Linked DNA regions of Homo sapiens: region 1 is linked to region 2. The links come from fine-mapping of genetic effects on gene expression. Tissue or cell type: sun-exposed skin. Region 2 holds a variant in brackets; the other region holds the start of a gene. All regions are shown on one strand. Distances are between the middles of the regions.

Region 1 (5,393 bases), 140 kb before region 2:
AAGCACAGGCTCGGAGGCCGGGGCCGCACCCGACAGGACGTAGTCGGCACTCGGCTTCTCGCTGACCCTGATCAGGAAGGCGCCCGTGGCGTTGCCCTCGGCCTGCAGCCGACGCACAGCTTCCGAGCGGGAGATGCAGCCAAAGAACCACCTGCAGGGGAGGAGTCTGAGAACACGCGGACCTGGGCCCACCCCACGTGGACCCCACGCTGGCCCCAGCCTGCCCGCCTGGAACCCCAGCCGCCCTTGCCTGCCACCTCAAGCTCCCAGCCCTGACCACAGCTGCTCTCAGGAGCTGTCGCTGACCCAGACGCCCTGAATGTCCCGAAAGGCCAGGACAGGCCCCTGAGGACCCGGCGGGGGCAGGGGCAGGCGCTACCACACCCTGCCCTGAGTGGCCCGAGTCTAGGGGTCAGAGCCTAGGGTGGAGCTGGGGAGGGCAGCTGAGCAGGATGGCTGCCCAGAGCTGCCTGCACACACCCATGTGTGACGCACGCTCACACACACACAGTCACAAACCCCCACACATGCGCACAGTTCACCCGCACACCTGAACACACACGCGCATGTGTGCTCACTTGCCCACACGCTCACACGCACGCACACACAGCCACTCGCGCGCACTAACTCCCGGCTGCGGGGTGTGGGCCAGCCCTGGACTGTGGACTTCCAGGTGGAGCTTGCAGAAGCTCCAGGTGACCTGCGCCCTTTGTGTGTCTGACTCCCTCAGGTCACTGGAACACAAACCCCACACAGAAGACCACGGCCCAGCATGGAGCCCCTGGGGTCCACCCCCTCCACTTCCGCACACCTGGAAGCACTGCCCCACCTGCCCCTCCAACCACCTGGCCTCCCGCCCCCCCCCTCACCTGGCCTCCCGCCCCCTCCTCACCTGGCCTCCCGCCCCCTCCTCACCTGGCCTCCCGCCCCCCCCCTCACCTGGCCTCCCGCCCCCTCCTCACCTGGCCTCCCGCCCCCTCCTCACCTGGCCTCCCGCCCCCCCCTCACCTGGCCTCCCACCCCGTCCTCACCTGGCCTCCCGCACCCCCCTCACCTGGCCTCCCGCCCCCCCCTCACCTGGCCTCCCGCCCCCTCCTCACCTGGCCTCCCGCCCCCTCCTCTCCTGGCCTCCCGCCCCCTCCTCTCCTGGCCTCCCGTCCCCTCCTCTCCTGGTCTCCCGCCCCCCCCACCTGGCCTCCCGCCCCCCCTCACCTGGCCTCCAGCCCCCCCCACCTAGCCTCCCGCTCCCCCCCCCACCTGGCCTCCCACCCCCTCCTCACCTGGCCTCCTCCCCACTTCTCACCTGGGCGAGTTCTCAGGACTCAGGGTCTTTGCACCTGGGAGCTGACCAGCCTCCGGCCAGACCCCACCCCTGCACCCCTGCTCACTAACGAGGTCGTGGGTCTGCGCGTGACCCTGCTAACGAGGTCGTGGGTCTGCACGTAATAGAGGGGTCTCCACCATGGGCCCCTGCCCGACGGCCTCTTTACAGCCTCCCCTGCTTGTTGCTTGGGTCCCCCGGGAGCTAACCCTACACAGCCTGTGACTCACGCACACACACAGTGGGTGCCCAATCACTGATGAGAAACGCGGGATCTCAGGAGCGTGACCCTCCTCAGCCTGAGCTCCGGGCAGCTGTGGAAGCCAGGGCCAGGCCACACCAGCTGCTGTCTGGTTCCCCGCAGGGCACAGCAGGCAGGAAGTTTGCCCGGCAGCCGGCCCGCTCCCCTAACTAGGTCGTGTGTCTGGTTCCGGCACTTTGGAAACTGGGCAAGCTTCAAGCTTCGTTTCCCCCAAAGGCCCTGGAACGCTCCGACAGACCTTGTCACTGGCCACCGGGCCCCAGAAGTCCACCCTGGACCCTCTGTCCTCCCTGGGTCCCGGCAATGCAGCGTCCACCCCCGAGCTGTGACAAGGATGAGCCCAAGGCAGGGGCCGTGCCCTCTGACCCCCGTGCTCCAACTCCCGCAGGGACAGTCCTGGGCACTCCTGGGCGCCAGCGCATGGGGCCTGCAGGGAGGATCAAGCGGGATGCCCAGCCTGGACTTTGGGGTGCAGGAAGATGGAACCGGGGTCCCCACCTTCTTGGGCCTCCCTGAGCAGCCCAGAGCCCTGTCCCTCCCCTGTGCCTAGAGGGTGGCCTGTGCCAAAGCTCCCAGCAGCCTAGGACACGCACGGTTCCGACTCCACCGTCTCCCTCTCGGCCAGGTAGTTGTGGGGCACATAGCCCTGGGCCACGGCCCCACCCGCCTCGTCCAGCAGCGTGGCCCACCACCACTGCTCCTCCTTCCTGGCCACGTGGAAGACGTCCCCCGCGCGGAAGCTCAGCTCCTCGTCCGTCCGGGACTTGAAGTCCCAGAGGCCCACATACTTGGGGCCCAGGTGAGCCTGGTCCCGGGACACCATGGCGGGCGGGCGCAGCGGCAGGACCAGGCTGTGGCCCAGCTGGAGCACCCAGAGCTGGGCGTGGCAGGCGGGCCGTCCCACTTCCTCATGACAGGCCGGGAAGCAGCCACACCCAGCACCCACAGGCGCTCCAGAGCACCCCGGCTCCTCCTGAGGGCCCAGCCGGCCCCACAAGTCCTCAGGCCCACTGGGGCCCATCTGAGCACTTAGCGCCCGCACTATGGGAACCCACTGGGCAAGCACCGCCAGGGCCGGCCTGAGCGCAGGAGAGGGGGAGGAGGACCTCCCGGTTGGGGCTTCTTGGGGGTCCAACTTATGGACACTCAGGCACTCAGGGAAGCCAACGGCCCTCTGGGAACAAGCCTCGCAGCCTGAGGGCAGGAAGGTGAGGGCTGCAGGCGCTGCCTTCCCAACCCTCAGAGCTGCGGGGGCACAGGTGGGGGCCGCCTCTCTCCCCGCTTCCGGCAGCTTCCCCTCCACCCGTCGGTGCCCTCACCCAGCCCCAGACTCCACCCCTGAGCACAGGGCCCAATGTCAGGAGCTGCTGTGGGCAGGCGTCCTGAGAGCGGCCTCATGGGCAGGCCCGCCCTCGGGTAAGGGCCAAGCAGGGAAGAGGGAGTGGAATCAGGGCAGCGACAGCTGTGTGGGTCGGCCCGGAGGACTTCCCGGAAGAGGAGGGCCCGAGGGTTTTGGGGGATCCCCGGGGAGGCAGAGCCAGGGGCACCCACGGCTGAAGAAACGGGCACTGCCTTCCTCCACACGGACGCCAGGGGGCAGGCAAGGACCGTGAGTGCGGCCTGGAAGCGCCCATGGCGCTGGGGCCCAAGGCCACAGGTCCCTCCCAGGCAGCCCCTCCCGCCTCCAGCCTCTGCCTCCTCCTGTCCAGCCCGCAGGACCCCTGCCCCCTTCCAGCTGGCCTCCCTTCTCCCGACTCATGCCTGAGTGAGCCCTGCCGTGACCCCCACCTGCACCCGACGGCCGCCTGCCCCCCAGCCCCTGAGACTCGGGACACCCCCTCCCTGGAGGCCCCTCCCCGCCCCACCCTCCCACTGACCCTACTGTGTCCACCCGGGAGCTCCAACCCAGGGACCTGGACTGGCAGCCACAAGGGGGCAGGAAGGGGCGGGAAGGGAAATTCAAAGTCTGCAAGGGGTGGTAAGGAAAGTCCCTAAACTGCGTATTTCAACTTTTATTTTTATTGCAAAGAGAAATAATGGCACCTTCCACTCATTGTTTTGAGATTAAGAACAATAATCTGGATTATTTAACAGGCTCATAGATTTCTGGGCAGCCCAGCTCAGCGCTGACCAAGGTGGGGAGGGGCAGCGGGGTGCCGGCCTGGGCAGTGTCCCTCAGGCCCTCCCAGCTCTGTCTGGGGTCGGTTGGGGAGGATGCAGGGGGAGGGGTGGGGGGTGGGGAATGCGGAAGGAGGGTGCCGGGGCACCTGGCCGGGCAGCGTCCCTCAGAGCCCGGCCAGACTCTGGGCCCGTGAGTCTATGTCCAGGAAGCCTCGAGTATCCCTGAGTTCGGACGTGCAGGACTTTCAGTCTAAGCCACACCAGGAGGCAGGAACGTCCCCAGCCCCTCCCAGATACCCAGGAGCACCAAACCTGTTCAGCTGGTGGCTGGCGAGATGCCTAGGAGGGCACAGGTGCCACAGACACACCTGGTCCCCTTAATCCCAGTGGCGGCTGCAGAGAGCACAGAGGGCGAGGCCTTCTGTGCCAGAGGAGCCCCCAGGCTGCTGTGCTGGGGACCTGCCAGAACTGGAAGCTCAGCTCAAGGCCTCAGTGGGCCCAGGTACCAGAACCAGCCCCTCCCCTAGGTTCTCCCATGCAGATGGAGCTGGGCAGGTGGCCAGGGTCCCAAAGGCTCAGATAAAGCCTCTTGCCTCCACCATCTGCAGGGGTCCTGGTTCCTGCTGCTTCCCTCCGCTTGGCCTTGTTCCTCCGATGCACGGGCCCCAGGAAGCCCCCGCGCTGCCTCCGTTCTCGGAGCCTCCGAGTGGCCTCTTCCTTCCCCGGGGCCACCTGTCTCTGCACACGGGAGTCTCATCTCTTAGCTCCCTCCTGAGCCAGGCTTTGGCCGGGGCCTGTGGACGGCAGCCATCAGCACTTCGGCTCAGCAGGTACAGAGCTGACCCCAACTCTAGGGGACAAGGACTCAGTCAGGCCTGAACTTGTCTCCAAACTTTCTGTCCCCGAAAGCCTTCTGGGCACAGCTGCCAACCTGGGCTCCCAGGAGGGTGGGGGGCAGGGTCTCCGGGGGCCACAAACAGACCCCACCGGCCCCCTTGCTTCTTGACGTGTTTCACGAAGACCTGAGCAGAAGCTTCCCTGAGCCAGACGTGGGGAGACGAGGGCGGACCCTGCACATCCCTGCCCCCTCCTGCCTTGGTGACCCCCGAGGACTCACACCCAGAGGCTTCCTGAGCCACTTGCTGCCCAGCATACCATGGCATCTACCTCCGAGCCCCCAACCGACCCTGCCTGACCCTGCACAGGCAGAAGACTCCAAATCCCCCACGGCCCACCCTGAGGCCCCTGGAAATAGCCTCCAAGGGCAGCTCCCAGGTCACCAAGCCTCCCGGCCCACCCTTCCTGTGCCACCTGGAACCCACCCAGGGAGATGGAATCGGCAGCTCCTGCCAATGCCCTTGGGGCTCACGCTCTCTGGGCACCATGATGTCCTGGGCTGGGGGTCCGGGCGGCATGGGGGCCGCTCCAACCTGCATTTTCTAGCCACGTGGACCCGTACGCTCCAGCTCCTGGGTCTGGGTTTGGGGGGCTGAGCCTGTGTGTGATGTGCGCCTGTGTGCGTGTCTGAGTGGGTCAGTCCCGGCTTACTGAGTGCTGTGTGCGTGAGTGGGTTTGTGCACAGGCCGCCAGTGTGTCTGTGAGGGGCAGGTGACGGTGCCACCCCGTGCCTACATACCACACATCCAGTGGGGTCAACACCACGGTCTGCCTGGGAGTCAGCACTGGTCA
Region 2 (5,393 bases):
CAGACAGCACACACACACCCACGGAACAGCACACTCTCCCACGCGGGGCCGCTGGGTTTCCTGCAGTTTCTCCTCCTCCAGGCCTTTCCCTGGACCCTGGTCCAGTCCGTCATTTGAGCACAGGTGCCTGTTAGAACGAGACCTTCTTGTTAGGACGATGAGTGTCCCAGCCACCACCTCTTTTGGACTCCGGGAGGCCTGGAACGTTCTGAACGCTCCGTGGGGCTCCAGTCTTCTCCGCAGCCAGGGCAGCAGGGTTTGCTGTCTGTCCTGCAGGCAGATGAGGAGTCAGGGCTGGGGCCTGTGTGGGGGCTCTCCTGAGCGCACAGCCGCCGAGGTGGAGCGTGTTCTGCCTGAGCGCCGACCTGGTCGGGGGAATCCCAGTTGCTTCCAGGTGGAGCCACTGTCCTCAGCGTAATGCTCAAGGCTCTGGCCTGGCTCCTCGGCCACCCTGCACCCTCAGGGTCCCCTCCTGTAGCTTCTGCTGCCCCATCACTGTCACTCTCCAAAGCTTTGGGGACTCTGCCCAGAGCCACCGCCTCCCAGAAGCCCCTGACAACCTCTTGACGACCCCCTAGTGACCCCATCCCTCCCCTCTGACGGCGGCCCCTGCTCTGAGGCGGCTTCTTTTCCTCGGTGCTGTTCTCGTGCTGGCCAGGCCTCCTCTCCCCACCTGGAGGCTCCTGAGGGCGGAGGCCTCTCACCTCCAATGCTGGCGTCCCCTGGAGGGCTGAATTTGTTTCCGAGGGAAGGAAACTTCCACAGTTGTTGCCTTCAGTTCCAAAGCTGCAGCCTGATTTCCCCCTCCAGGCTCGAGCCTGTTTTCTTCTCGGCAGCTACATCTTTGACCAGTGTCGTCCCCCCTCAGGCCCGAGCCTGCCTTCTTCTCCTCAGTTCCCAAAGCTGCAGTCTGGTCCCCCCGCCAGGCTCGAGCCTGCCTTCTTCTCCTCGGCAGCTACATCTTTGAGCTGTTTGCTGAAGCCCAGATCACGTTTCAGACCAAGGGCTGCATCCTGGACTCGCTGGACCAGATCATCCAGCACCTGGCAGGACGTGAGTGCTGGCACGGGGTCTTTGGTGCGGGCAAATGTGGCGTAGGGGGTGCAGCAGGCCTCCATCTTGGCAGTCAGGGCTCCCCTGGCCGTCACCTGGCCGTCAGCAGGAACAGGCCCACAGAACCTCATCTTCTGATCGGGGCGTGGAGGCGTTAGTGCCACTTGCCAGCTGCCGTAGAGCCTGTCCCAGTTCTGCAGCTGGCGGCTTCGTCCTACAGCCTCATCCCATTATTCTGCTTTTGAGAAAGAGCAGCCCAAGGCCCTAGCTGGCTTGTGGGGCCTCTGGCTTCTCCACACCACCCCGAGTTCTGCTTCTCAGAGTTGTGGGGTCCAGAGGCTTTGCCCAGAGGCGGTGTCCCCATGGGCTGCTCTGGTTTGAGACGCCGGGCCCAGCGGGGTCTCTCCTCTGCTGCGCTCCCGGGTGCTGGGGAGGGTGGCTTTTGCTGCTTCAACCCTTAGGCGACCATAGAGCCTCTTTTCAAGTCCCACTGACCCCCTTGGAGACTCTGTCCCTGCCTGGCTTCTCTCCTGGCTGCTGGGAAGAGCAGGCGAACTGCCCGCCCTGAATGGATGCTGCGCTCCACCCTGGGCCCCCCATTGGGCAGGAGATGGAGCTTGGCAGTCGGGCTGAGCGGGCTCATGCTGGAAGGGCCGGGGCTGGGGTCGGGGCCTCCCCTGCCTGCAGTGTGGGTGTCAGCGCCCTGCTGCCCTCCAGGTGCTGGAGTGTTCACCAACACGGCCGGACTGCAGAAGCTGGCGGACATTATCCAGGTGGGGCCTGCTCCTCTGTGGCATCTCCTTCCCTGATGGAAGCCGGGCGGGTGCCTTCTCCTGCTGTATTAGTTAACTGATTCTAGACTTGGGGATGGGAGAAAGGCCCCTACACCACCTGTTTCTGATTGGCAAACTCTCGGCTCCTTTCCAGTGCCCTAAACCCACACTGGGCCTCCTGCAGGGATGGGGGAGGACGAGGTCTGGTGGCACATGCCCAGGGTGATGCTGGTGAGGGAGGACGCAAAGGACAGTGGGGGCCGGGGAGCCGCTCCTGCCCTGTCCGGGCCCTCAGGCCAGGGGGGACCCACTGCTGGCAGCCCCAGCAGCCCCAGCTGCACGCAGATGAAGAGCTCTGGACACACGCGGCTTCCTGAACAGCTTCTCCAGGGACAGACAAATGGGGACCCTGCAGGTTCCCGGCAGGGGTGTCCCTGGGAGCCCATGATTGGGGGTGCGACCCTGGCCCCCTTCTCATTGGCCCCGTCCTGTCCTGCAATGCCCGTCCCATGTGAGGTCTGCTTCTGGCTCCATGCCTATGGCAGCACCTGCTTTCCCTGGCGTAGAGGTGCTTGTCCGGTTTGTGGAGGGCACGCCCCATTTTGGGTGCTCTGGGCACGTTGCCTCTCCGGGGCCTCGGTGGCTTTTTTAGAAGCAGACTCAGAAGTCCCTGACTGGGGAAGCCAAGGCACAGGTGGCTGTGTGGAGCCCTGTGAGGCCTCCTCTGTGCTGCCCACGCTGTACCTGCTGGCCACACGAGATCATGGCAGGGTTAGGCAGGGCTGCCCAGCGCTATGACAGCTTCATGAGTGTCCATCTGGCCTGTGGGGTGCTTGAGCTGGGGGAGGCCGCAGAAGAACCCTGGGATGCATGGCTGGCCTGTGCATGCTGCTGGGCATGGAGCTGCAGATCCCGGAACAAGCAGGCACTGCCTTCTCCTTCACAGACGCAGCTCTGAGCGGGGGCGAGACCTGGGCAGGGACCAGGTGGGGTGGGCACAGGGTGGTGGGGCCCAGGCTCAGCCCTCCCTCCACTGTGGCCGTCTCTGTGGCCAGTGACGCCACAGCCTGTGTCTTCTCTGTGCGGTAGCTGGGGCTG[G/A]AAGGACAGCACTGCCTTGTCCTCCCAACTCCTCCCCAAAGGCACGGTGGGCATCCCAGGCCCAGACCCCTCTGTCTGTGGCTCCTGCCTGCCAAGGGCTGCTGTGCTGTCCCGCATGGAGTGTGGTTGGCTCTTCAAGCAGGAGGCCGTGCACCTATCAGGCGGACCTGCTTCCATGTCCCTGATGGGTCACTGCAAAGCACCTCCAGCACATGGCCAGGCGAGGTAGCCCTGCAGCCCAGGGCCTGGAGGGCAGGTGTGAGCTGGCCCGGGCCTGTCCCTCCCTGGAATACAGCTTCCCAGGCTCCCACTTATGGAGAAGTCTCCTCCACACTATGGAACTGAATCCTAGAATGTGGCTTCTGAGGTTCCTACACTCGAACTGAATCCTGGAATGCGGCTTCCAAGGCTTCCAGCTATGGAGAAGACTCCACACTCTGGAACCGAATCCTGGAACGCGGCCTCCCAGGCCCCCAGCTATGGAGAAGACTCCACACTCTGGAACCGAATCCTGGAACGCGGCCTCCCAGGCCCCCAGCTATGGAGAAGACTCCACACTCTGGAACCGGATCCTGGAACGCGGCCTCCCAGCCTCCCACTTAAGGAGAAGTCTCCACACTCTGGAACCGGATCCTGGAACGTGGCCTCCCAGGCCCCCACTTAAGGAGAAGACTCCACACTCTGGAACCGAATCCTGCACACTCCATCGGTTTGGAATTTCCTTTGGCTGCTGCTCTAAGTAGCCGCTGGTGGATGACTCAGCTTCTGCCAGCCCTCGGGTGCCTGGAGGATGAGGGACTGCACACAGTGCTCACCCGCGTTGGCTCCTGAGCCCCTGCAGGTGTGGGCGGTGCCCATAGGGCTGGTGCTGGGTTGGGCCTGCAGCCCTGAGTCACAGGTGACCCTGGGGGCAGAGTGGGGCCAGTGGCCCCAGGAAGAGGATGTGGGATGCACAGCTCAGCTGGAGGCGAACTCCAGGCAGGGTCAGGCCGTGTGCTCGGAAGTCAGGGCTTAGCTGGAGGCAAACTCTGGGCAGTGCTGGCCCGTGTTGGGGAACCAGTTGCCCCTGGGCCCCCGTGAGACTGCTGGGTCCTCATCCCTCTCTGCCTGAGGCCGGAGCTGCCCTGGGCTGAGGCACAGGGGGATTTGTGGTGGTGTTTTTTTGAGAAAGGGTCTCGCTTTGTCACCCCGGCTGGAGTGCAGGGGCTTGATCACAGCTCACTGCAGCCTCAACCTCCTGGGCCCAAGTGATCCTCTTGCCTCAGCCACCCGAGGAGCTGTGAACACAGGTGTGCACCACCGCACTCAGCTAATTTTTAAAATTTTTTTGTAGAGATGAGGTCTTGCCATGTTTCCCAGGCTGGTCTCAAACTCCTGGGCTCAGGCAGTCTGCCCGCCTTGGCCTCCCAAAGTGCTGGGATTACAGGCAAGAGCTTCCATGCCTGCCCAGCAGAAGGCTTTTCGAAGGAAGCTGTTTCCTGAGGCAGACTCAGCCCTGCTCATGGCAGCCACCAGCGTGGGGGTGAACTTGTTCTGTTACTTCCATCCCCGTGGGCCAAATGCTTTGGTAAAACACAAGGCCCTGTGTTTAGCTGTCTTGACAGTGAAAATGGCTGGGAAGGAAGGAAGGAACGGAAGGAAATTTCTCTCTCCTTCTGTGCGTACCCAGGCACGTGCACATGCATGCAGAGTACGCACACACGCACGCACGCCTGCACAAATCCACGCATGTTGCCAAGTCTCTGTGTTCCAGCCGTGGTGTCTGCCCCCCGGTGTTCTCTAGTTCGGCTTCTCCGCATTTCTGTGAATGATTCCGGCTTCTTGGTGTTCCCAGCAGAACTCCCTCAAGTCTGCGGCGGGGCTCTGACGGCGGTGGCTTGGCTGACATGGCCACATTGCTGAGCCTGTTGGGGGCTTTGCGTTCCTGTTCTGGCCGTTTTTGGCTCGTTTTCCAGGAACGGTCGTCACGCGCTCCTCTCCTAGTGCAGGCATCATTCCTTTCCCATTGATTTGCAGGGTTCTCTGTAAGTTCTGAGGATCCCATATACATATACTCTCTGTAAGTTCTGAGGATCCCATATACATATTCTCTCTCTAAGTTCTGAGGATCCCATATACATATTCTCTCTCTAAGTTCTGAGGATCCCATGCCGACATACATATTCTTTCCTTGTCTCATGCTGGTCATTTTTTCCATTTTCATGACAGGTTTGGTGAACACATGTTTCCTTGTCAGATTTTTGTTCTGAGCTTGTGCCTCCCGACCAAGATGCTAAACCGGGTCTTGTGTATTCTCCAAACTGCACTGTAGAGTGACGGAGCTTTGTGTCTGGGCCTCCATGCCTTCTGACGTCACCTGTGGGGGTGTGAAAGGCAGACTCTACCTTGATTTTTCCCAGCACGCCACACCGGTGGTTCTGTGCGCTGACCGAGCGGCTCGGCTTCCCCCAACTCCACTGGGCACCTGCC

Alleles and levels. Alleles are on the strand shown, and positions count from the first base shown. SD is a standard deviation of normalised expression in the study named.
In carriers of allele G in region 2, the expression in sun-exposed skin of the gene that starts at base 2,468 in region 1 tends to be higher than with A alone (moderate effect, 0.46 SD a copy in GTEx).

The links. PIP is the estimated chance that this variant, and not a neighbour inherited with it, causes the effect.
Region 1: PTK6 starts here. The variant in region 2 is fine-mapped to the expression of PTK6 in sun-exposed skin (GTEx, PIP 0.95).

Annotation. Positions count from the first base shown.
Region 1 is chr20:63,534,909-63,540,301 of GRCh38, forward strand. It overlaps PTK6 (protein tyrosine kinase 6), which reads right to left and starts at 2,468. Exons shown (of 8, transcript NM_005975.4): 1 at 2,177-2,468; 2 at 30-151. The coding sequence starts at 2,406. SRMS (src-related kinase lacking C-terminal regulatory tyrosine and N-terminal myristylation sites) reads right to left here. Exons shown (of 8, transcript NM_080823.4): 8 at 3,581-5,393. RefSeq lists enhancers at 2,567-2,656, 5,075-5,244, silencers at 2,777-2,926, 3,257-3,526 and a cis regulatory region at 5,160.
Region 2 is chr20:63,678,894-63,684,286 of GRCh38, forward strand. It overlaps RTEL1 (regulator of telomere elongation helicase 1), which reads left to right. Exons shown (of 35, transcript NM_001283009.2): 13 at 956-1,053; 14 at 1,771-1,826. RTEL1-TNFRSF6B (RTEL1-TNFRSF6B readthrough (NMD candidate)) reads left to right here. Exons shown (of 38, transcript NR_037882.1): 13 at 956-1,053; 14 at 1,771-1,826. Among named protein-coding and RNA genes, the nearest start is that of TNFRSF6B, 15 kb to the right of the region's middle. RefSeq lists enhancers at 3,095-3,819, 4,546-5,270. The variant G/A (reference allele first, on the strand shown) is at 2,925.